Linked DNA regions of Homo sapiens. The protein of the gene in region 2 interacts with the protein of the main gene of each other region in a pairwise test. Each region holds a gene or a part of one and is shown on either strand. Other genes may lie near its edges. The genes, in order: SH3BP4 and GKAP1.

Region 1 (10,551 bases), on a different chromosome or scaffold from region 2:
TCCAGGAAGAGGAACAGCATAGCATCTGCAGGAGCTGGAGGCCGGGCGAGCTGGGTGTGTTCAGGGCAGGGGTGCACAGAGCACAGTGGCCCCCAGGGTTGGGATGGGTAGGGCCAGATCTTACACGACTTTGTGGGGCAGGGGCAAAGGCTGACCCCGTTCTAAAGGCAGTGGAGAGAGGAACAACCCAGGTCTCATTTGACTCCTTTTTCCTTCCCATCTCCCTGCACACTGACTGTCTCAAACTCTCACATTTTCCCCATCATTTAAACACTGTTTCCAACCCAAGGCATCAGAACAAGGACACCGAAAGCTATGCTAAAAATGAGAGGCAGGGGGTGGCCTGGCTGTGACTCTCTGGGAGGGGCAGGTAAAGCGGTGGCAGAGGCCGCAGAAATCGTGGCAGCCCTGTGATGACAAGCGGAATAGAACAGCCAGTTTTCAGGGTCTCCTAATAAACGACCTGGGAGAAATCCGTCTGTGGTTTCTATAAGTTTGGCCAAGATGATGACTGACACAGGTGTGGGGGGCGGGTGGGGACACTGCAAAACCAGTTTCACTTTATCACCACAAAATCTAACCTTGCCTCAGGGAGCCGACCTGGCCAAGGGCAAGTTTCACTTCCTCCTTTCTGGGTAGCGGAAGGACTCGGGCACAGAGGACACACCCCTCCCTGGAGCGGACAGGGAGGCCCACCAAAAAATCCCCTCCCAGAGATGCTCACCAATCGAATTGAGAGAGTTTGATCATTTATGTCTTTTGGAAAAAGATAAAAAAGCAGGAAAATGAGTGTAAAAGCCACCTACTCGGCGGTTATTTTCCACAGCTGGTGTGGTACTCCTGGTTGTGTCATTTTTCCACCTCTGGTGCAACGTCGAGGTGAGTGTCCTGGGCTCAGCAATGCTGTCAGGTTCCACGACAGCATGCACAGCCACGGCTGTGGTCTCGGGGCCGCCCGCACAGAGGCTCTCACGGGATGGAGGCGCTTTGTCTGCCACTGTGCTGGGTGCACCCGTGAGGAGACCAGGCCACGGCCCGGCACCAGGTTCTGGAGAGCCAGGAGGTGTGCTCTGAATCACACATGGGTGATGGCTGATGGGAGGGACGCAGGCCATCCCCTCCCTGCAGGTGACCCCACATGGGGGCCCGGAGGCTTCCCTGCTGCGTTTGTTCGCTTCCTCCCCACCCAAGTGCAGTGATTTCCTGGTTGCCAAGGTGGCCCCCCTGACGGCCGCTTCCAGTTCCATCTCCCTCCCCTGGGCAATCTCGTGGCTCCATGCTTCTGGCACTGCACACGACTGCAGGCCACCCAGAGAGGGTCTCACCCGACTCCTGCCCCACTCCTGCCGGGCTGCGTCCCTTCTGTCTCCTGGCTCAACATGGGCAGCCGAGCCGGGTATGTGCCACATGTGACCCTTGCCTGCACACCTGTGTCTACAGGACACTCTGGGCTCTCCCAGACAAACAGGGCTCAATCCAGGGGAGCCGGGGAGGTGGCAGAAAGGCCGGGCACCAAGAAGCACGCCTCTCAGAAGCTAGGATGCAAGAAAGCCTGCGGGCTCAGAGGAACGAGGAAGAGCGGCACACGCCAAGGTCACAGGGTTTTCCCACAGGAATGAACACCAGCAATGCGCCCCTCTCCGGAGGATAGGGGTGGACTCCGTTCTATCACAGGGAGAAGTCCACAGGGACTCTCCACCACAAACACCCCTGGGGATGCCAGGACACGGATATGGCTAAGCCTAGCCAAGGTAACCGCCAGGACCCAGCTCTGCTGACGGTGGGGCTGCCTGCGGGGAGCAGTGCTAAGAAAGCGTTGAGCAAATGCTCCCCGGTTGGCTCGTGGGCCAGGGCGTAACCCACAGTCTGATGCTTACTTCCCCCTTTTATTTCTTTGGATTCCAGTTCACGGTTGTGCTGGCAAAACAAATGCTGTCCTCGCCCCAACTCAAACCAACACAGAGGGGGAAGTGGAAACAATACAGAGATGTTAGAAGCTTCAAGGAAGCAAAGGCAAGAAAAACTCACATTACAATGAACACAGGCTTTGGGGCAGCGGTTCGTGGGACTCTGGAGTCAGAGACCCTGTTGGGAATCTAACGAACCACATCTGCTCCCAAGAGATCTAAACTGAATGGCGAGAGCACAGGCCGCCTTCTGCCCCCACCCGCATCTGGTCCATTCTGGGACCCTCTTGGAGCTCACAGATTCGGTGGGAAAAGTAACTGGAATGCTCTTCTTTGCAGGGTCCTTGGGTTGTCTGGGGCCCCCCAGGATCCCCCGTAAACCCCATCTCCACTTCAAGCACACTTCAAGCCCCACACGTATATCCCAGGCAGCGGGACATCAGCCACAGACACTGTCCTGGTGACTTACAACACCACGGCCCACGCCCACGCATATTGGGAAGGCGAAAGGCTGTGCTGAGCCGCACCTATCTCAGGCAGCGGGACATCAGCCACAGACACTGTCCTGGTGACTTACAACACCACGGCCCACGCCCACGCATATTGGGAAGGCGAAAGGCTGTGCTGAGCCGCACCTATCTCAGGCAGCGGGACATCAGCCACAGACACTGTCCTGGTGACTTACAACACCACGGCCCACGCCCACGCATATTGGGAAGGCGAAAGGCTGTGCTGAGCCGCACCTATCTCAGGCAGCGGGACATCAGCCACAGACACTGTCCTGGTGACTTACAACACCACGGCCCACGCCCACGCATATTGGGAAGGCGAAAGGCTGTGCTGAGCCGCACCTATCTCAGGCAGCGGGACATCAGCCACAGACACTGTCCTGGTGACTTACGACACCACGGCCCACGCCCATGTGCACTGGGAAGGCGGAAAGGCTTTGCTGAGCAGCACCCCTGAACGCCCAGGCACCTGCTGAGCACTCACCATCACAAGCTCCTTCTGGAAGGACTTCCGTTCTTTGTTCTCAGTGTTGTTACAGTCCTCCTTCAGCTTTTCTAGGACGGACGCCACCCGCTCGGGCTCACTATCCAGCTCTGCCCGGCAGAAAAAGGTGAGCGGCAGGTTCACGTAGCCCAGGGCGTCAGCGAAGGAGCGCCAGCTGCTGATGTTCTCCATGAGCAGGGTCCTCACGGAGGCATAGATGTACGTGAGGAATTTGCAGGGCCGCAGGATCTGCTCCAGCAGCACCGAGGTGCTCAGCTCGGGGCCCGAGCACAGGCTGGGCCGGGCCCTGCCGACCACCAGCACGTTCTTGGTGTGCACGAGGCCCACCCTGCCCTGGTAGTAGCCGATGTACCACTCCTTGGTCCACAGCTGGCCCCGGAGCCTGACCCGCTCCTCGCTGAGCAGGGCGATCCCGTCGCCCTTCTTGTACTCCAGCAGGTAGTGGTTCTTGTTCTGCCGCACCACAGTCTTGAGCAACTTACCAAACTTGAGGCTGGACACCGGGCGGTCCTGGAAAGTCGGGTACTTTGTAGTGGTGGCAAACGGGGACAGGATGATTTTCCCGACTTCGTTCTTCTTGAGAAACCTCCTTTGCCCGGAAGGCTTGATGGCACTTTTAGGGGGTGGCTGAGGAGTCTGGACACAAAACTGGGTGAGGATGGCCTCCTGGTCGTCCTTCACCTGAACCCGCAGCGTGAAGTCAGAGAGCTCGTTGGGGTTCTGGGAGGTGATGGGGAAGATCAGGCGGCTCACCTTGCCCAGCTTCAGCTGGAATCCTCGCACCACTTTGGCCTGCTCGCTGGCTTTGACCTCGTAATTCGTCATATTGGAAAACATACAGACCTTGAGATCCTGGGGCCTGGACAAAACGAACTGGTGCTTCCCCCACAGCTGCAGGGCCACCGGGGCAGGGTTGGGTGCCTGGCGTGTGACCTCGCTGACCAGGAGCGTCTTTGGGGCACAGTCATGCCCAAAAATGGTCACTACCGTCTTGAAGGATGGGTGGATGTGTTTAGGGCCGTAGAGACCCACTGTGACTTTTTTATTGATGAAGTCCCACACGGTGGAAGGGTAGAGGATGCTTGGGCCATGGGCCACGACAGCCACGTACATACAGGGCTCCAGGTTGTGCAGCTGTGCCTGGACCGTGTCCCCACAGCTGCAGTTGAGCGGGACGGAGACATATGGCCCTTCCTTCGAGTCGCTCCTCAGGCACTGGAGGCCCACTGTGCTTTTGCTAAAAAGGTCATTTTTTATCTCGGCTGACACTTTCATCTCCAAGATGATAGAGGTTTTCACCTCCAGGTTGCTCAGCTTGACCTCCAGCACAGGGCTGATGCTGCAGGACCTGTCACTGTTGAGCTCCAGCGGGGGGTCCAGCAGGGCTTTCATGGAGATCTGCTGGGTCTCCCCAGGGGCGACGTGGCCCTCGGGCACGTGGATGCTGATGCTGGTGTCAGGAAGCTGGACAGCACCCCCGGAGCTATCCAGCTTGCACACGATGTTTGTCTCCACGGCTTGGGTCTGGCCCCAACCAGGGCTTTGGCCAAGCAAGTCCAGGTCGTGGCAAGACCGGGCCAGCTTCCTGTGGTTTAGCCAGGCAGTTCGAAAATCCTCCCGGCTCTGAAATTGCTCGGGGGCAGGTGATTTCAAGCCGGTGAAGAAACTCGACGATGTGGGAGCATCGGACTTGGCTTGGAGGACGGAGAGTTCCGAGAGACTGTAGGAGCGCTTGCTTCTGAAGAAGGGGTTGTCCCGCCTGACCGGCGGCTCTGCGTGGAGTCCGTTTGTGACTGGAAGCTCATCGAAGATGTTGCCAGTGCTATTCGTGGTGGCTGAGCTGGATTCGGTGAAGGAGGATGTACCTGCGTCAAAAAGGAGCAAATCCACAGTACTTTTGGGATTCAGCTCATCCAGGCTGGGCATGACGGGCACGTTCCCATTCAGAAATGGATTGGTCTGGACCCCATTCCAGAAAGGGTTATTACTGTACATTCTGCCTGGTACTTTTTTGTCATCTGTCCATCCCCCGAGCAGCTCCAGCTCCTTGGCTACCTCGTCTGGGCTGTCTGGAAGATTATCAATCATACCGCTGTCACTCAGTGTTGAGTTCCGGTAGTTCAAGGGCTGCACATAGGAGGAGGGGATGTAGCCCATTTCGGTGGTGTTGTGTGCGTACCACCACTCACCGCCAGATGTGTCCAAGACGTAGAGATGGTCGCCCTTGGAGAACTTCAGTGTGGTGAAGTTGGTGGGGCAATAGTCCTTGATCGCAATCACTTCCTTTGCATTTCCGAAAGGTGTGGGGTTGTCTACGAGCAAGGCACTGGGAGAAGGCACTGTGCAAAACACAAAGAAAACAGATGGTGAGGGCAAGGCCGGCGGGGTGTCCGGAGAGCTTCCCAAAGGAGAGAGGACGGTGGTAAACAGACAGGTGCACAATAACCCAGGCAAGTCACCAACAGAAACAAACCAAAGTGAAATTCAGTAGGTAATTTACCTGGCCAACGAACTGGTTCCTGCTACTTGGTCACCTTCAAAATCGACAGCCTATGTCCGGCAGAAAGACCACAGAGGAGCCTCTCCATCACTCACAGAAAGGCAAATCAGTGCAATGGAATATTTAACATGCCCTACGCCCTAAACATCTCATTTTGGGCAACGTTAAAATTCTTCTTAAAAGAACTGCTACTAGATACAAAGAGAAACTGAATGTGATTAACTTAGAAAACACGGTGACACGGTGAGTTAGGTGACCACTGCATGTGATCAGGGACTGGAAATGAACAGATTCCAAAAACTCCCGCAATGACATGTATGAGCTGATTCCAAGCTCTGCCTCTGGATGGAAAGCTTCCCTCAACCTGCTTCTTAAATTTCCAAACTCAACCTGTTCCTCACCAAACTGTTTCCTCAGATAAAGTAAGAATTCTGAAGTCAGTTCCTTCCAACCTCTTTTATTCTTATTTTACTTATTTATTTATTTATTTATGAGACAGTGTCTCACTCCGCCACCCAGGCTGGCATGTATTGACATGATCTCAGCTCACTGCAACCTCAGCCGCTCAGATTCAAGTGATTCTCCTGCCTCAGCCTCCAAAGTAGCTGAGATTACAGGTGTGTGCCACCATGCCTGGCTAATTTTTGTATTTTTAGTAGAAATGGGGTTTCATCATGTTGACCAGGCTGGTCTCAAACTCCTGACCTCAAGTGATCCTCCCGCCTCAGCCTCCCAAAATGATGGGATTACTGGTGTGAGCCACTGCGCCTGGCCCAACCTCTTTTAAATTATCATTCAAAATCACAACATGAAAACAGACTGTCTACATACCTTGAAAATGAGAGATTATGCCTAGTCATAGCTCATACTATCATTGAACAAGTGTTGAAGCAGTCTGAAAAATTCCAACCCTTCAAAAAGTGAATCAAGTTAATTCATGGCTCCTGCCATTGAACTCTGTATGTTACCAATGTAGACGGCAAATGAAACAGCAAAAATAAGTCAGCCAAACAAGTGGTGTGTTTTGAAAAATAATGGATATGATTAAATGAGAAGATATATTCAGAAGATGAAGAACACTCTTTCTGAAGAAAATAAGCACATATACTTCTCCCCAGGACTCCCCTCCCCCACCTCCCAAACTGCCTCACTTACGGAGTCTGCTGACATTCTGGCTTCCCGTAATAAACAATTGAAAGAAAGAAAGGAAACGTTTCTTTCTTTCTTTCTTTCTTTTTTTTTTTTAAGTTGCCAAAGCAAATGACCAAAGAAAGGAATCCGTTTTTAGTTAAACTAAACCTACATCTTTTCTAATGTGATGAAGTCCACAGTCATCGTATTCTATCAAATTGCCCCCCCGACCCCAGAAAATCACCTGCCAGTTTCCTTTTCCTTTGAAAGGAAATAATCACACTTCCTTGGGAAAGTGTTAGGAAATCAGGTAGACAGTTTCTATTCATTTACATTAACTGGGTTACAGAGATGCGCTTAGCTGGGAGCATCCCTGGGCCTTGAAGCCCCACCTACCTCCTCCTGTGAAATTACAGCAGGCCCGTCTATCTGGGTGTCTCAGAGAACCCGGCTCTGGGATCACTAAACCCAGACTCGAGTGGAGCCCTTAGAAACTGTGTGATCTCCAGAGCCTAAGACTCCACTCATGGTGGACAAAAAGTGTATTTCCTCAATGAGCTTTGGAGAGGACAAAATGCAAAGACGTAGATAAGGCACTTGTCATAATATTGCTTGACCCAACTTGAGGACACACAGGATGTTATGTGAAATAGACATCTCCTGGCCCCAATGTTATCTTTTTCCATAGCTCTTACCACCAACCACTACATCATGTACCTGATGAGGTTCAGAACATGCTACCCCAAAATATAGCACCACACATATTTTAAGCTGGAGGAATTTGAGAAACCGCAGGTGCAGGCAGGACTCCCTGCCTGCCCCCTGAAGCAGGTCATAGACCCTCAAGTGGGAGGGGCCCTCCCTATATGTGGGGGACAGAGCATCCTATCTCCAAGGACACAGGGAATCTGCAATGCCCAGGCCTTGCTGTCCTCCAGCTCATGACACTTGCTTATGCTTTTTCTTGTCCCATCTCATTTTTCCAGGACTCTCCACACCTCATCAAATCCCTCAGGTTTAATTACTTCTTTAAGTCTTCATTTCCTTATGAAGAAATTATATATCTGTAATATACATATAACATATATTAAGTAAGTTTGCATGCTTTTCTCTTATTAATGTCTTTTGTTATAGGGGCCCAAGCCAAGAACTAAGAATTTTTCCTTCTCTACATACCTCATATATATATATATATATATATATATATATATATATATATGTATATATATTATATATATATATATAAAATATATATACTATATATAATATATATATAATATATAATATATATATATAATATATATATTATATATAATATATATTATATATAATATATATTATATATAATATATATATAAAATACATATATCCTTTATATATATATTATATATATGTGTATATATATATGAAATATGTGTATGTGTGTGTGTATGTGTGTTTCTTTTGCAGGAGGAGCCTCCATCTCCCCATTAGGGTATCAGCACCATTAGAGCCTGTTTTGTTTGCTGTTGTATCCCTGGGCCTCGTACAAGGCCTGGCGCGTAGCGGGGACTCAATGAGTATTTGTGGAATGAATGATCATCGTGCATGCGTAAACGACACAGAGAAGCCATAATCTATGCTATTGGATCCTGGTGTTGGTGAAAGCAGTGTCTGAATTCCCCCTGGCTGTGCCCTTGTGCTCTAAAAAAATCATAAAACCAACAAATTATTTAATATGAGATGGGAGTGAACCAAAACCTGTGAAAGAAAATGGCTTTCATGGAGAGGTGGGAAGAATTGATGTGGGTCAGGCTGAGGCCAGAGGATACAGAAGCTCTTCTCTCTCATTTCTGTTTTGCTAGTCATGATCTCCAGGAATATAAACCATTTTATCTCCTTGACACAATCTACTGGAAATGTCACATAAAGATGAAAACTAAATGAAAATTAAATAGAGCTTGCCGGCCATCAAAATCTTGCTAGAATCCCTCAAAGGTTATGTCCTTATTATGCTCCCTCAGAATAATTCCCTTACAGTAGTTTCAAAATTAAGAAACCAAAGCAATCAAGAATGCTTTGTGCATAGCCTAGAATGTATCAATGAGAATTATCATTCAGTTTTATCCAACTGAAGAATAAGAATGGTTTTACTTAAAATTCCCAGCACTCTCCTTGGAAGAGAAATGGTCACAGATCTCACTCAAGGGATCAGGCTTAGCCAAGGGAAATCACCCCACTCTTCCTTTCCAGAACCCTAGGGAGGTGGACTGTTGTGTGATTCCCCCTTCTAGATGAGGCCCTCCATCAGTCAACTGCCACCAAGCAGCTGGGGACACTGGGGAAGGGCTTCCATCCCATCAAATGCCAGAGAATCCCTAACGAATTCTATCTTAATGAATTCTGAGGAGTGTTACCCAGATTCACAGCCACCTTGATTTTAATACAAAAATCTCCCTGGGTGTTAGGAAGTTCAATGTACTGAATAATACATTTCCTATCCGTCTGCCTACGTTCTTCTGCAGGCAAAACATTCATCAGAGTAGAAGGTTTCATGGCAGATACTTTGGCTGAAATAAATTCCCACCTTGAAGTCTGTCTATCACTGGGATGTGCGTGAAGCTTCTGGCTAGCAAACTGCCTGGGTCACATGTGGCGCCTCGGAGGTAGATTCCCCAGAATCTCTGGGCAAGGCCAGAGATCCCATGGTTCTGTCCACCTCAGATTCTCAAAACACCCTCCCCTTCATGTTTGAGGCTGTCCTCCTCCTCACGTTCAAGGCTGTCTTGTTTGTCTTCCTCCTCTAAATTAGGGATTCTTTTAGGGATAACAGCCAATATTTCCTCCAGAGCACTGTCATTATTATTATTATTATTTTTTATATAGAGTCTCAGAGTGCAGTGGTGTGATCTCGGCTCACTGCAACCTCTGCCTCCTGGGTTCAAGTGATTCTCCTGCCTCAGCCTCCTGAGTAGCTGGGATTACAGGCACGCTCCACCATGCCTGGCTAATTTTTTGTATTTTTAGTAGAGACGGGGTTTCACCATGTTGGCCAGGCTGGTCTCGAACTCCTGACCTCGTGATCCGCCTGCCTCGGCCTCCTAAAGTGCTGGGATTACAGGCGTGAGCCACCGCGCCCAGCCCACTGACATTTTTAAAAATTCACCTCACTTTAAGACTCTGCCCTCCTCACTTTAACACTCTGCCCAAATCACACAATTTATGCTCACAAGTTCCAGCTTTGACTCTGATGAGTTGGGCTATAAAGTAAAAAACAAAATGTCCATTAACAGAATCTGAAAAATAAATGCTTCAGTTATTTATGGCAACACCCAATCACTGTTGCTCTCTTACAAATAAAATCTCACACGGGCTAGACGTTTCTTTTAAAGAACATTTACAGCAATGCCCAGGGATGCCAGCATCAATCAGAGGCAGGGAGAAGATGTTTGGGATAAAGGGGAAGGAGAAGCTACTCAATTAGACAGACATAAACACAGTGCATATAATTTTTGTACATCAGGGTAGAGGATTACAACTTTATCTGGGGGATAGCAGTTTAGTTCAAGAAACATTTACTTAGCACTGACTTTAGGCTGGGGCCGAGGATACAAATGGTCAAAGTCAAGTTCCTACTTTTCAGCTGTGCTCCAGGCAAGACAGTTTCAACAGCTAAGAGAAAGCCAAGGGATGATGATATTGATGATGATGGTGCTGTCACCGCAACTGCCAAGCCCCAAAGGAGCATGTGAGAGAGACTGAACGTGGCCTAGGTTAGGGCAGATGTGCAGGAAGAAAATGACCTGCTAGTATTCACCTTGGTGTCCAAAAGATAGGTTTTCTCATGAACTCAATTTTACGAGGCCACTGGAGAAACCCAGAGACCCAGGGTTATTAAACTTTAGAACCACCTTCTAGATCAGGGGTTGGTAAAGCACGGCCCTGGGGCCAAATGGGGCTGTCTGCAAAAAAAAAGTTGTCTTGGAAACACGACTCTGGCTATTTAATGACTTAACTTCA
Region 2 (11,448 bases):
CCTGCCTGTGTAAATTAGTTCAACCATTGTGGAGGACAATGTGGCAATTCCTCAAGGATCTAGAACTAGATATACCATTTGACCCAGCAATCCCATTATTGGGTATATACCCAGAGGATTATAAATCATGCTACTATAAAGACACACAAACATGTATGTTTATTGTGGCATTATTCACGATAGCAAAGACTTAGAATCAACCCAAATGTCTATCAGTGATAGACTGGATTAAGAAAATGTGGCACATATACACCATGGAATACTATGCAGCCATAAAAAGGATGAGTTCATGTCCTTTGCAGGGACATGAATGAAGTTGGAAACCATCATTCTCAGCAAACTATCACAAGGACAGAAAACCAAACACTGCACGTTCTCACTCATAGATGGGAATTGAACAATGAGAACATTTGGACACAGGGCGAGGAACATCACACACTGGCACCTGTGGGGAGGGATAGCATTCGGAGGTATACCTAATGTAAATGACGAGTTGATGGGTGCAGCAAACCAACATGGCACATGTATACCTATGTATCAAACCTGCACATTGTGCACATGTACCCTAAACTTAAAGTATAATAATAATAATAATAATAAAGATCCTCCTGCCTCAGCCTCCCAAGTAGCTGGGACTACAGGCATGAGCCATGATGCCCAGATATCACCTCATTCTTAAATGTGGTGAACAGTTGATGATCTCCATTTATTTGAAGAAACCTCCTTACATAAAAGACAGAATCTACAATGAACAAACAAGAAAAGAAAAAAAAGCTTTAGAGGCCAGTTGTGGTGTAATCCCTGCACTTTGGGAGGCCAAGGTGGGTGGGTCACCAGAGGTCAGGAGTTCGAGACCAGCCTGGCCAACATGGTGAAACCCCATCTCTACTAAAAATACAAAAAAGTAGCTGCGCGTGGTGGCACACACTTGTAATCCCAGCTACTTGGGAGGCTGAAGCCGGAGAATTGCTTGAACACAGGAGGCAGAGGTTGCAGTGAGCTGAGGTCATGCCACTACACTCCAGCCTGGGAAACGAGTGAAACTCCGTCTCTAAAAAGAAAAAAAAAAAAAGAAATTGGAGGAAATAAAAGCAGTACAGAAAGCCAGAAAACATGTCAAAATCAAGAAATTCTCAAAAATTTTAACTTCCATATACTCTTCTCACTCAGGAAACTGCTGGAAGGAGCACTCCATCCAAGTAAAGGCGTATATCAAGAAACAGAAAAACATGTGGCTGGGCACAGTGGCTCACACCTGTAATCTCAGAACTTTGGGAGGCTGAGGCAGGTGGATCACTTTAGGCCAGAAGTTTGAGACCAGCCTGGCCAATATGGTGAAACCTCATGTTTACCAAAAATACAAAAAAAAAAAAAAAATAGCCGATATGGTGGCACATGCCTGTAATCCCAACTACTTGAGAGGTGGAGGCAGGAGAATCACTTGAACCTGAGAGGCGGAGGCTGCAGTGAGCTGAGATTATGCCTCTGTACTCCAGCCTGGGTGACAGAGTGAGAGTCCGTCTCAAAAAAGAGAAAAAGAGAAACAGAAAAACATGGGATCTGGTAAACCAGAACTCCAACAAAGCAGAAAACAAAGAGAATTCTCTAGACAAGCTTTTCCAACCTGTGGTGTGTGGCCCAGGATGACTTTGAATGTGGCCCATCACAAATTTGTAAACTTTCTTAAAACATACTTTTTTGTGATTTTTTTTTAGCTCATCAGCTATTGTTAGTGTATTTTATTGTGGTCCAAGACAATTCTTCTTCCAGTGTGGCCCAGGAAAGCCAAAAGATTGGACACTCCTGCCCTAGATGAAGGTGATGGGAGGTTCCAGGAAGTCAGCTGTGTAGCAGGCCTGGAGAGCACACTAGAGGATGGAAGTGTCTAGAAGGGATGTCTCCAAGAAAAGAAAATGGAAATGATGGATTACCTAATATGTCTGAAACTTTTGAACAAAATTTCACAACTCTGGTGGAAAATACGGAGATGTAATGGTGATAGATATAGAGAAAACTAAGCAACCACCAGGTGTGGTGGCTCACATCTGTAATCCCAACATTTTGGGAACTGAGGCAGGGGGATGGCTTGAGCTCAGGAGTTTTGAGACCAGGCCAGGCAACATTGTGAGACTTTGTCTCTACCTTAAGAAAAAAAAAAAAATTAGCCAGGAGTACTGGTGCACATCTGTAGTCCCAGCTACTCAGGAGGCTGAGGTGGGAGCCTGGGAGATTGAGGCTGCAGTGGGCTATCATCGCGTCACTGCACTCCAGCCTTAGTGAAAGAATGAGATCCAGTCTCAGAAAAATGAGAGAGAGAGAGATAAAACTAAGCAACTTAAGAAAGAAGGAAGAGCCAGGCGCAGTGGCTCATGCCTGTAATCCCAGCACTTTGGGAGGCCGAGGCAGGCAGAGCACGAGGTCGGGAGATCAAGACCATCCTGGCTAACACGGTGAAACCTGTCTCTACTAAAAATACAAAAAATTAGCCAGGTGTGGTGGTGGGCACCTGTAGTCCCAGCTACTCGGGAGGCTGAGGCAGGAGAATCGCTTGAACCAGGGAGGCGGAAGTTGCAGTGAGCCGAGACTGCACCACTGCACTCTGGTCTGGTTGACCGGGCAAGACTCCATCTCAAAAATAATAATAATTTTAATTTTTGTGCATACACAGTAGATGTATATATTTATGGGGTATATGAGATGTTCTGATACAAGCATGCAATGTGTAATAATCACATCATGTAAAACAGAGTATCTAGCTCTTTATAACCGAGGTTTTTAATGTAGATTTTGAACATTCACTGTGCATTGTTTGATGTGGCAGAGCTAGCATCTGTAGATGTATCTACTTGAAATACACGTTGGAGGTAGGACAGAGTAGTCTATGACAAGTTTTAAAGCACTGTCATTTAAATTGGAAAACCTGGCATGTGTCTGGTGTTTAATACAGACAGATGGGCATTTCCTGTAAAAGAAGGCAGTTACCATCGTAATTTGAGAGGTCAGAGAGAAGCAATTAGAAATCTCACTTTAGCAACATAAAACGTAAAAGCATCTGTTTAATGAAATGTGATATTTGCAAGAGTTTAACATATTAAACCACTGATGTCCCTGTGCAGCCTAATTTGAAGAATTCAACCCCTCACTCATAGATTAAAGATTTTAGTACTAGGGCTACTATCACTCTCTCCAAAACTACTCACTACTACAACACTACTGTGGAATCACTCTTGCGGTAATTCTTTGTGAGGGGTATGTGTATATATGTATGTATGTATGTATAACAGATATATATAACTATGTGGATGTTCATTTCAAAATCCTTACTGTGTCTCAATTCCTTGACCTCCCTTCAAAGGATCTCGTACCCTCTGGTACCTCAATTATCCATTCTCATATGCATTCCTTACACTGTAATATTACTGGTAACTACAGGTCCTCCTCTAATTTAATTCAAGCCTCCACTCTCCAACCACCTCTTATCGTTCCAAGGTCATTGCATATAGTAACTAAACTTCAACAATTCTTCAACCTCATCAAAAACACCAATTCAGTCACTCTACCGTCTTTCCACCATTCTTCACTCCTCTCATAGCTTTACTTCTTACCACTTCTGAAATTATAAGGCCTCCTTTGCCTCTATCAACACCAACTCTGCCCTTATCTTCCCCTTATACTTGCCTGGTCAAATCTCAGTCCTGGTTACTGCCAAAACTGCCTACTCAGTGCCTGCACATGAGCAACTGAATATGGCTAGAGAAAATTGCATAACCAAGTGGCTAGCCTCACTATAAATTCATGACCACTTATTCAATGGGGCTCTTAGTAATGCCTGGAAACTTTACCATGTTCTTTAGTCAGTTCACTCTCCCTCACTCATAAACTCTGATTTCACCTCCCTTCTCTCTTTTTTTCTCAATACTTTCCGTTAAGGACTACATTACCTAGAGTAGGCTAAACTGCTATAAAAAATAGACTGCAAAATGTTATGGCTCCAACTCAATAGAAATATATCTTGCTCACATAATTGGGTGTCCAGGTCAGTGGGTAGCTCTCCTTCATCCAGGCACCTTCTTTCTTGTGGCTCTGCCAACCCCAGAGGTTTGTGGTCATCTGCATAATTGAATCAGAGTCACCGTGTCCAGGGTCCAGCTGGCAGAAAGGAAAATGCATGAAAGAGGCACAAGTACTCTCAAAGTAAACGCCTTGGCCTGACAGTGGCAGACATAACATCTGCTCACGTTCTATAACTTAATACTTGACCATATGCAACTGAAAGAGAGGCTGAGAAAAGCAGTCTGTGTTTTCAGGGAGAAAGGGAGACTAAATTGTGATGGACAATTAGCAGTCTGCCAAAATGATCTTGCTCCTCACTTTGCTGAGAAAATAGAAGCAACTGGAAGAGAACTACTTTCTCCCACTGTCCAATCTATCTACTTATCTCGACATGTCCCATACACGTGGGAACTGGGGAAGATGGGATGGATCCCTAGACTAAACTTGACCAGAAAGGGGATCTTTCTTCCCAGGCTTTCAATAAGAACAATGTGGTCTCAAAGACCCTACTACCTAATCACAAAGTGCAAACATACCTTCTTTCCTTGTGCTTTTCAACCTCTGTGGTTTTGGATATTGTTGAGCAACACTCCTTCCAGCCCTGTTTTTGTGAAACTCCAATTTACCTTGTCTTGATGATTCTGCGTTACCCTATTCTCCTCCCATTTTCTGCTCCATCCCCTTTCTTTGCTGGCTTGGCTCACCTAGATCAGAGCTTCTCAAACTTTTTGATGTGACACAAATCTCTTCGGGTTCTTGTTAAGTTGAAGATGCTGGTTCAGCAGGTCTGGGGTGGAGCCTGAGATTCTGAGTTTCTAACTAACATCCTCATGTCAGTGCTGCTGGGCCACTGACCACGTTTTGAGTAGCGAGACTCTAAAGAGGGTGTTTTCCAAGATTCTGACCTTTGTTTTCTTCTTTTATCTCACAGCAATATCACTCCTAGGCTGATTATTTATGAGTCTATTTTCTAGTTCAGTCCTCTTTCCCATATTACAAAACCTTTATTTCTAACTTATTAGTGTCCATGTCTCTCTGGCTGTCTTGACAACCCTTTGAATTCTTAAAATGTCCAAATCTAAACTGATCTCTCAAGAAGTAGCTCCCTCTCCTTTGTAATTGTCTCTTTTCTCTCTTGCAATTATCTACAAACTCAAAACCTCCACTTTCTTTGATTTCTCTCTTCCTACCCACAATTAATCAATCAGTTGCCAAATTCTATAGATACTGCATGCACATCATCTCTCAACTATGCTCTTTTAAATTCCCCTAGCTGTCCCTTTAGGTCAGACTCATCATTTTTACCTGGCCTACAGTAGATCTGTCCGTTTTTCCACCTCTGATTTCTGCTTCCCCTCACAGATAAATCACTAGCACAAAGAAAAAAAAAAACCTTCCTTTTCTTCCCCCAAACTTCTGAACCATAAAAACTCAAAATACTGAATTAAATATAAATTCATCCATTTGGTATCTTAGGCCCCATACTCCTTTGTCTTTTCTACCTCTCAACATACCCTGGAGTCTTTGCTCTTTCCCCAACACAACTTTCACTGATTCGCCTTCATATATATTCTCATGCTATCCCTGCTTGCTGTAAAACTCTCCCTGTCTCCTTCAAGGTCAATCCCAAATGCCTACTCCTTCATGCTGCCTTTCTTTCCTTATCCCCAAGACAGATATACACGGTTCTTTGATTCCCGGCAGTACTCTGCCACTTTTCACGTGGCACCTATCATGGTTTGTCTTTTATTGTCTGTTTTATCTTTGTTTTATTCCTTACTTCTTTGAAGGCAAAGGTATCTTCAACTCCCCTCTAACTCTGAAGCATCTTACCTGTGGGGCGTCTAATATTAGTTGAATCATGGGGATTTATGGAGATAATGTGATGCGCTGGTAAGCTAACAGAATTGGAAGCCAGTACAGCTGGGTGCCGGCTCTGCCGTTTATTAGCTGTGAGGTTTTGGGTAAGTCACTTAACTTCGCCTGTAAAATTAGTCCACTACGACCTGATGGAGAACCAAGGGAGATAACGTTAAAGCGCCCTGCAACTCTACAGGGAACTGAGCAATGTTAGTTATTTTCCTTACAGAGATCTGATGCACTCTTGCTACTGGAATCTTGACTTGCAGGACCATCCCTACTTCATTGCCTGGAGGTCGAACCCCAAGTTGCAGGGAACCCAAGCTACCAGGTCCCACTGCCCTTTTCCACTCCAGGGCCCTCTAACCGCTCTCCGCGTCGCAGGTGATCCTGCCTTGCTGCGGGGGAGTGGCCTAGAGTCTCACTCCCTCGGGAGGCCTCCCTCCTTCCACCCGCTTGAGGAGAGCCCTTCTCTTCCCTGTGACCCCGAAGACCGTGGCGCCGCCGCCTACGTGAGGCGTTTGGACCCTGCCCGGCCCCCGTAGCTCCCCTTCTCCAGCAGGTGGTTCTGGTCCTCTCCCCCAACTCGGGCGCTCACGTCACCGGCGAACCTCTAACCAGCGCCAGCGCCGCTACCAACCGCGAAAATAAACAAACCCCCGCGCTCGGCGGACGCGCCAGGCCCCGCCCCCGCCCCCGCCCCCGCCCCGAGGCTCTCACGCCGCCTCCTCCGCCCGGGCTTCCCTCCACCCTCCGCCCGCCCGCCTGCTCTCAGCCGCGCTCTCCCCGCCCCTCACCGCAGCCTGCAGCCGCGCTCACCTCCGCGGTCCGCCCCGGCGCCCCGGGACCCGTTAGTGCCCAGCCTGTGGGCCGACCGCGACCCCCGCCCGGCGCGAGCCTGCCCCCAGCTCTGCCGACACTTGACCCAGACCAGTCCCAACGCCCAGTGCGGCCGCCCGGGGAGCCGCGGGAGAGGCGGCGGCGGGGGGAGGAGGGAGAGGAGGGCCGAGCCGGCGGCACGGGAGGCCCGGTGAGTACGCGGAGGCGGGCCCGCCTCGCGGGTGTCCGCTCCGGCACCCCGGAGGCGTAGGCAGCGGCTCGACAGCGCTCCCCTCGGCGCCCCGGCCTCGGGTGGCGGGGACTCGGCCTGAGGCGACGGGCCCCACTGACCGGAGCCGCTGGGCAGAGGGCACGGGAGGGCCGCGGCCCGACGCTCGGCGCAAGGCTCGGGGCGGCGGGGAGGGACTCGCACCCGACTCCCAGGCCGGCGACCGCTGAGCCTCCCGAGACCCCGTGGGGGCCGCTCGAGTGACAGGTGCCACCGTCCCCTCCCCGCCGCTGGCGCCCGCGCTCCCTCCCGGGGAGCCGGGCGCTCGGAAATTTCTGGAGCAACGACCTGACTCGTTTTCTCCCTTTCAGGTTTTGAAGCCGCTTCTCTGCCCGAGTTAGGTTTCGCCCAGCGCAATTTCTTTCTCTATGTACTTTGCGAATAAGTTTCGGAGCATCGGTTAACAGCCTATGGGTGAAATTTGGCTTTCATTCATGAATGAGGTATAGTGAATTACTTTTTGAATATAGTGCTCCTCCTCCTCCCCCGCCAGCTATTGAAAAGTGATTTTTTTTTCTGTTATTGTTTGGAACAGCCTTACCGAATTTTTGTCAGATCTCTAGCATTAAGGTGCTTCATAAATATTGAACAGTAACGACAAAAATAGTTTATCAAATTGGCTGATTGCCTTTTCTCTTCCTCCTCTTTTTCACTCTTTACCTTCGCCAGATTTTTCAGAGTAGATGCAAGTGCTTTCATTAGAAGAACTAATGAAAGATCGTCTGTCTTACACTAAAAAGCCGGAGACACTTTTCTTCACCATTTAGCATTGTCTGTTGTGTAGTAAATGTGCTTGGGATTGTAACTGGAATCATTTAATAAATGTGACTTGTAGCTATAAAAATATTTGAGAAGCTTTTTGGCAAATTAAAATATTAAAAATCTTCATAGAAGTCTAGATTTCTTTTCTCAACAGATTTATAACACTATAGTAGCTTCAATTCTGGAGTAAGAGCAAAACCCAGAAGTTGACCAAAAGAACCTTGTGTGAAAATAGATGTATTTTACTCGTGGGAGAATCCCTCAGGTCCTCACTGAGTACCTGCTTGTATTTTTTGTTTAACTTTCTTGGCCTGCAGAAAGTGGGAGCTGCAGATTGGAGAGGGATCTCAGTACTTAACTATGAGAAAAAAATGGAGTTTGGGGCATACCCATTGGGTTTACATCACTTACAGTAAGTGTGTTTGGAGCAGAGTTTTAGTATGCACTTCACACTTGCTGATTGTGAACCCTATTTTTTTTTTTTCTTGAGGCGGAATTTTGCTCTTGTTGCCCAGGCTGGAGTGTAATGGCGCGATCTCGGCTCACAGCACCTTCTGCCTTCCAGGTTCAAGCAGCTCTCCTGCCTCAGCCTCCTGAGTAGCTGGGATTACAGGCGCCTGGCTAATTTTTTTTTTTTTTTTTTTTGTATTTTTAATACAGACGGTGTTTCGCCTTGTTGGCCAGGCTGGTCTGGAACTCCTGACCTCGTGATCTGCCCACCTCTGCCTCCCAAAGTGCTGGGATTACAAGTGTGAGCCACCACACCTGGCCTGTGAACCCTAATTTTTAAGAAGCCAAAGTGAAAGATACTGTTTGGTTATCTGAAGAACAGAACATGAAATAACACAATTTTTTATTTCACCAGGTGTTAAATCAGTGATACTTGGTGCCATTTCATATTACGCTCAGTTAATTTCGATCTAAGTTATATTTCAGTGAGGCCACACTAATTGGCATCTACATTAATACCTTTTTTTGGTCAGGCTAATTGGTAGTGTTAATAGAAGATGGCTATCATTCATCTCATAAAAAGTAATATATTTGGTTGTTCTTGATTTAAGGATTTTATATGTATAATTGTGTGTGTGTGTGTGTGTGTGTGTTTTCTGAAGTTCCCTAATTGTGGTCTTCTGGACTGAGATATGGCTGCTGCTGTCTTGATTCTAGTGAGGTCATAGTGTAGAGGGATAAGGTCATAATGGCAATGTGCCTCCAAACCTTGATAGAGGCCAAGACTACCAGCCACTTAGGAATTCTTCTGCTTGGGTCGGGCTTGGTGGTGCATGCCTGTAATCCCAGCCCTTTGGGAGGCCGAGGCTGGAGGATTGCTTGAGCTCAGGAGTTTGAGATCAGCCTGGGCAACATAGTGAGACCCCATGTATACACAAAGAGAAAAAAAAAATTCTCCTGCTTGTAGCTTAGGCTATTCATTTTTAGAAGCAGTTTACTTAAGCAGCCAATGCATCCTAGTTCTCTTAAATTAACACTTTAGTTTTTCATTTTTTTGAGACAGTCTCTCGCTCTGTTGCCAGGCTGGAATGTGGTGGCGCAGTCTTGGCTCACTGCAACCTCTACCTCCCTGGTTCAAGCGATTCTCCTGCCTCAGCCTCCCGAGTAGCTGGGACTACAGGCGTGCGCCACCATGCCCAGCTAGTTTTTGTATTTTTAGTAGAGATGGGGTTTCACTACGTTGGCCAGGATGGTCTCGATCTCTTGACCTTGTGATCCACCCGCCTTGGCCTCCCAAAGTGCTGGGATTACAGGCGTGAGCCACCATGCCCGGCTGGCTTAAATCAACACTTTAAAACCAGATATGCTTCCTAGACAAAATTGGTTGTGGCAATTAGTTTGTTAGAATAGTACTTACCGTAATGAAACAACTTTGAACTGCTAATAATTGCTCATGCACATCTGCGTTATGGGAATTGAGGATTGTCTATTGTGCACTTCACATATTTCTTTTTCTACTTGTAGAGCACATTTTTCACTGCATAGACAGCTGTGTACTTGAAGAATGTAAACATGAAGAAAACACTAAGTTCAATAAATGTGTCTTCTATGTGCCAGATCCTGTGGTATTTGTAAGGGATAGAAACTCTTGTCTTTCAGGATCTTGAAATCAGGATCATAGGGGCTAGGCACAACAATAAAGAGAATTTTTTTGGAGTCCATTCAATAATAGTAAGTTTAAAGTATGGAAATATTACAGAGGAGGGAATGTTTAACTTCAGGAACAGGTCAGAGAACGCTTCATAGATATGCTAGCACCTGAGCAGGATTTTGAGGAATAAATGGAAGTTTTCAGTGGAAGAGATAGATGGCATTGTAGACAAAAGAGAACAGCATAGTTAAAGATATGAACAAGTAAACTAATTGTGTGTTCAAGAAATTTCAAGTTGTTTTTTCTTGGAGTACATGCAAAATCTGAAGAAAGAGGGTTGCTAGAGAAAGCCCTAACGCATGCTATTACATTTAATAAGTCAAATAATTGGCTTTTTGGGTATGAAGTATATGTAAAATAAAGACTTTGTTATATTTTTGACATTGCTGCCATCTTTTTTTTTTCTTTTTCTTCTTTGACAAAGGGTCTCAGGCTGTAACCCAAGGTGTAGTGCAGTGGCACAATCACTGCTCACTACAGCCTCGACCCCCAGGCTCAGGTGATCCTACCACCTTAGCCTCCCAAGTAGCTGGGACCACAGTCATGCACCACTATGCCTGCTAACTGTTGTACATTTTGTAGAGAAGGGGTTTTGCCATGTTTCCCTAGCTGATCTTGAACTCCTGGGCTCAAGCAATCTGCCCACCTCAGCCCTTCCAAAGTACCAGGATTACAGGTGTGAACCACCATGTGTGGCCTGCTGCCATCTTAAGTATAAATTAATAGTTTGTACTAGTGGTAGTCATTACATTATGGAAGATAGTAGAAGATATATTTATTTATGGTGAACTGCCTGCATATTGAGAATGTGTGTTTATTTCACATTTTGCCCTGAAACATTTCTGTTTTTAAAATTATCGTGTGAATTTATTTTGTCTTCCTTCAACTATACATTATCCTTGAAATTAGTTTTATCATTTATTTTATGAGATACGGTTTTGCTATGTTGCCTGGGCTGGTCCCAAACTCCTGGACTTAAGTGATCTCCTGCTTCAGTCTCCCAAGTTGCTGAAATTACAGGTGTGCACCACTGAGCCCAGATATCCTTGAAATTATTTTTAAAAGGAACTCAAAGGGAGGAGGGGAAAAATATAAATAAAATAATCATTAGATTTCTGCACCAAAAACCTGATTTGTGTAGTAGTTTAATAATATGTAAATGTTTAATATACAGTATTAGCCACCATATTCATAGACTAATTTAAGTAACTTAATTGGCAGTCCATTGTATTTTCATTTGCATTGTATGGCTTAATTATATTATGTGTATATAAATGTCTAAGCATAGAAGCATCTAAATTTTAAAGACCAAGTGTATTTGAAGGAGAAAAAGTATAGAGAGGGAGGGAGAAGAGCTGTGTTTGAATCTATTTATCCTAACATCTCTTAGATGTGACTGTATGTGGAGATGCAGAAGTTTAGGACACAAGACTGAAGGAATACTAACCCTAGCCATGACCTGAAATATAGTATCTTTTAAAAGCCTAATGTTTTCCTAGTCTCC

What was found.
Region 1: the proteins of GKAP1 (region 2) and SH3BP4 interact in a two-hybrid assay, tested with the Homo sapiens proteins (one study listed by BioGRID and IntAct).

What each region holds. Positions count from the first base shown.
Region 1 is NC_000002.12:235,035,597-235,046,147, reverse strand, and holds part of SH3BP4 (SH3 domain-binding protein 4), read right to left. Parts: intron 5,261-10,551; coding exon 2,901-5,260; intron 1-2,900. UniProt on the Homo sapiens protein: May function in transferrin receptor internalization at the plasma membrane through a cargo-specific control of clathrin-mediated endocytosis.
Region 2 is NC_000009.12:83,813,012-83,824,459, reverse strand, and holds the start of GKAP1 (G kinase-anchoring protein 1), read left to right. Parts: upstream 1-6,690; 5' UTR 6,691-6,943; intron 6,944-6,976; exon of another isoform or gene 6,977-7,228; intron 7,229-7,332; 5' UTR 7,333-7,464; intron 7,465-8,443; exon of another isoform or gene 8,444-8,534; intron 8,535-11,448. UniProt on the Homo sapiens protein: Regulates insulin-dependent IRS1 tyrosine phosphorylation in adipocytes by modulating the availability of IRS1 to IR tyrosine kinase. Its association with IRS1 is required for insulin-induced translocation of SLC2A4 to the cell membrane.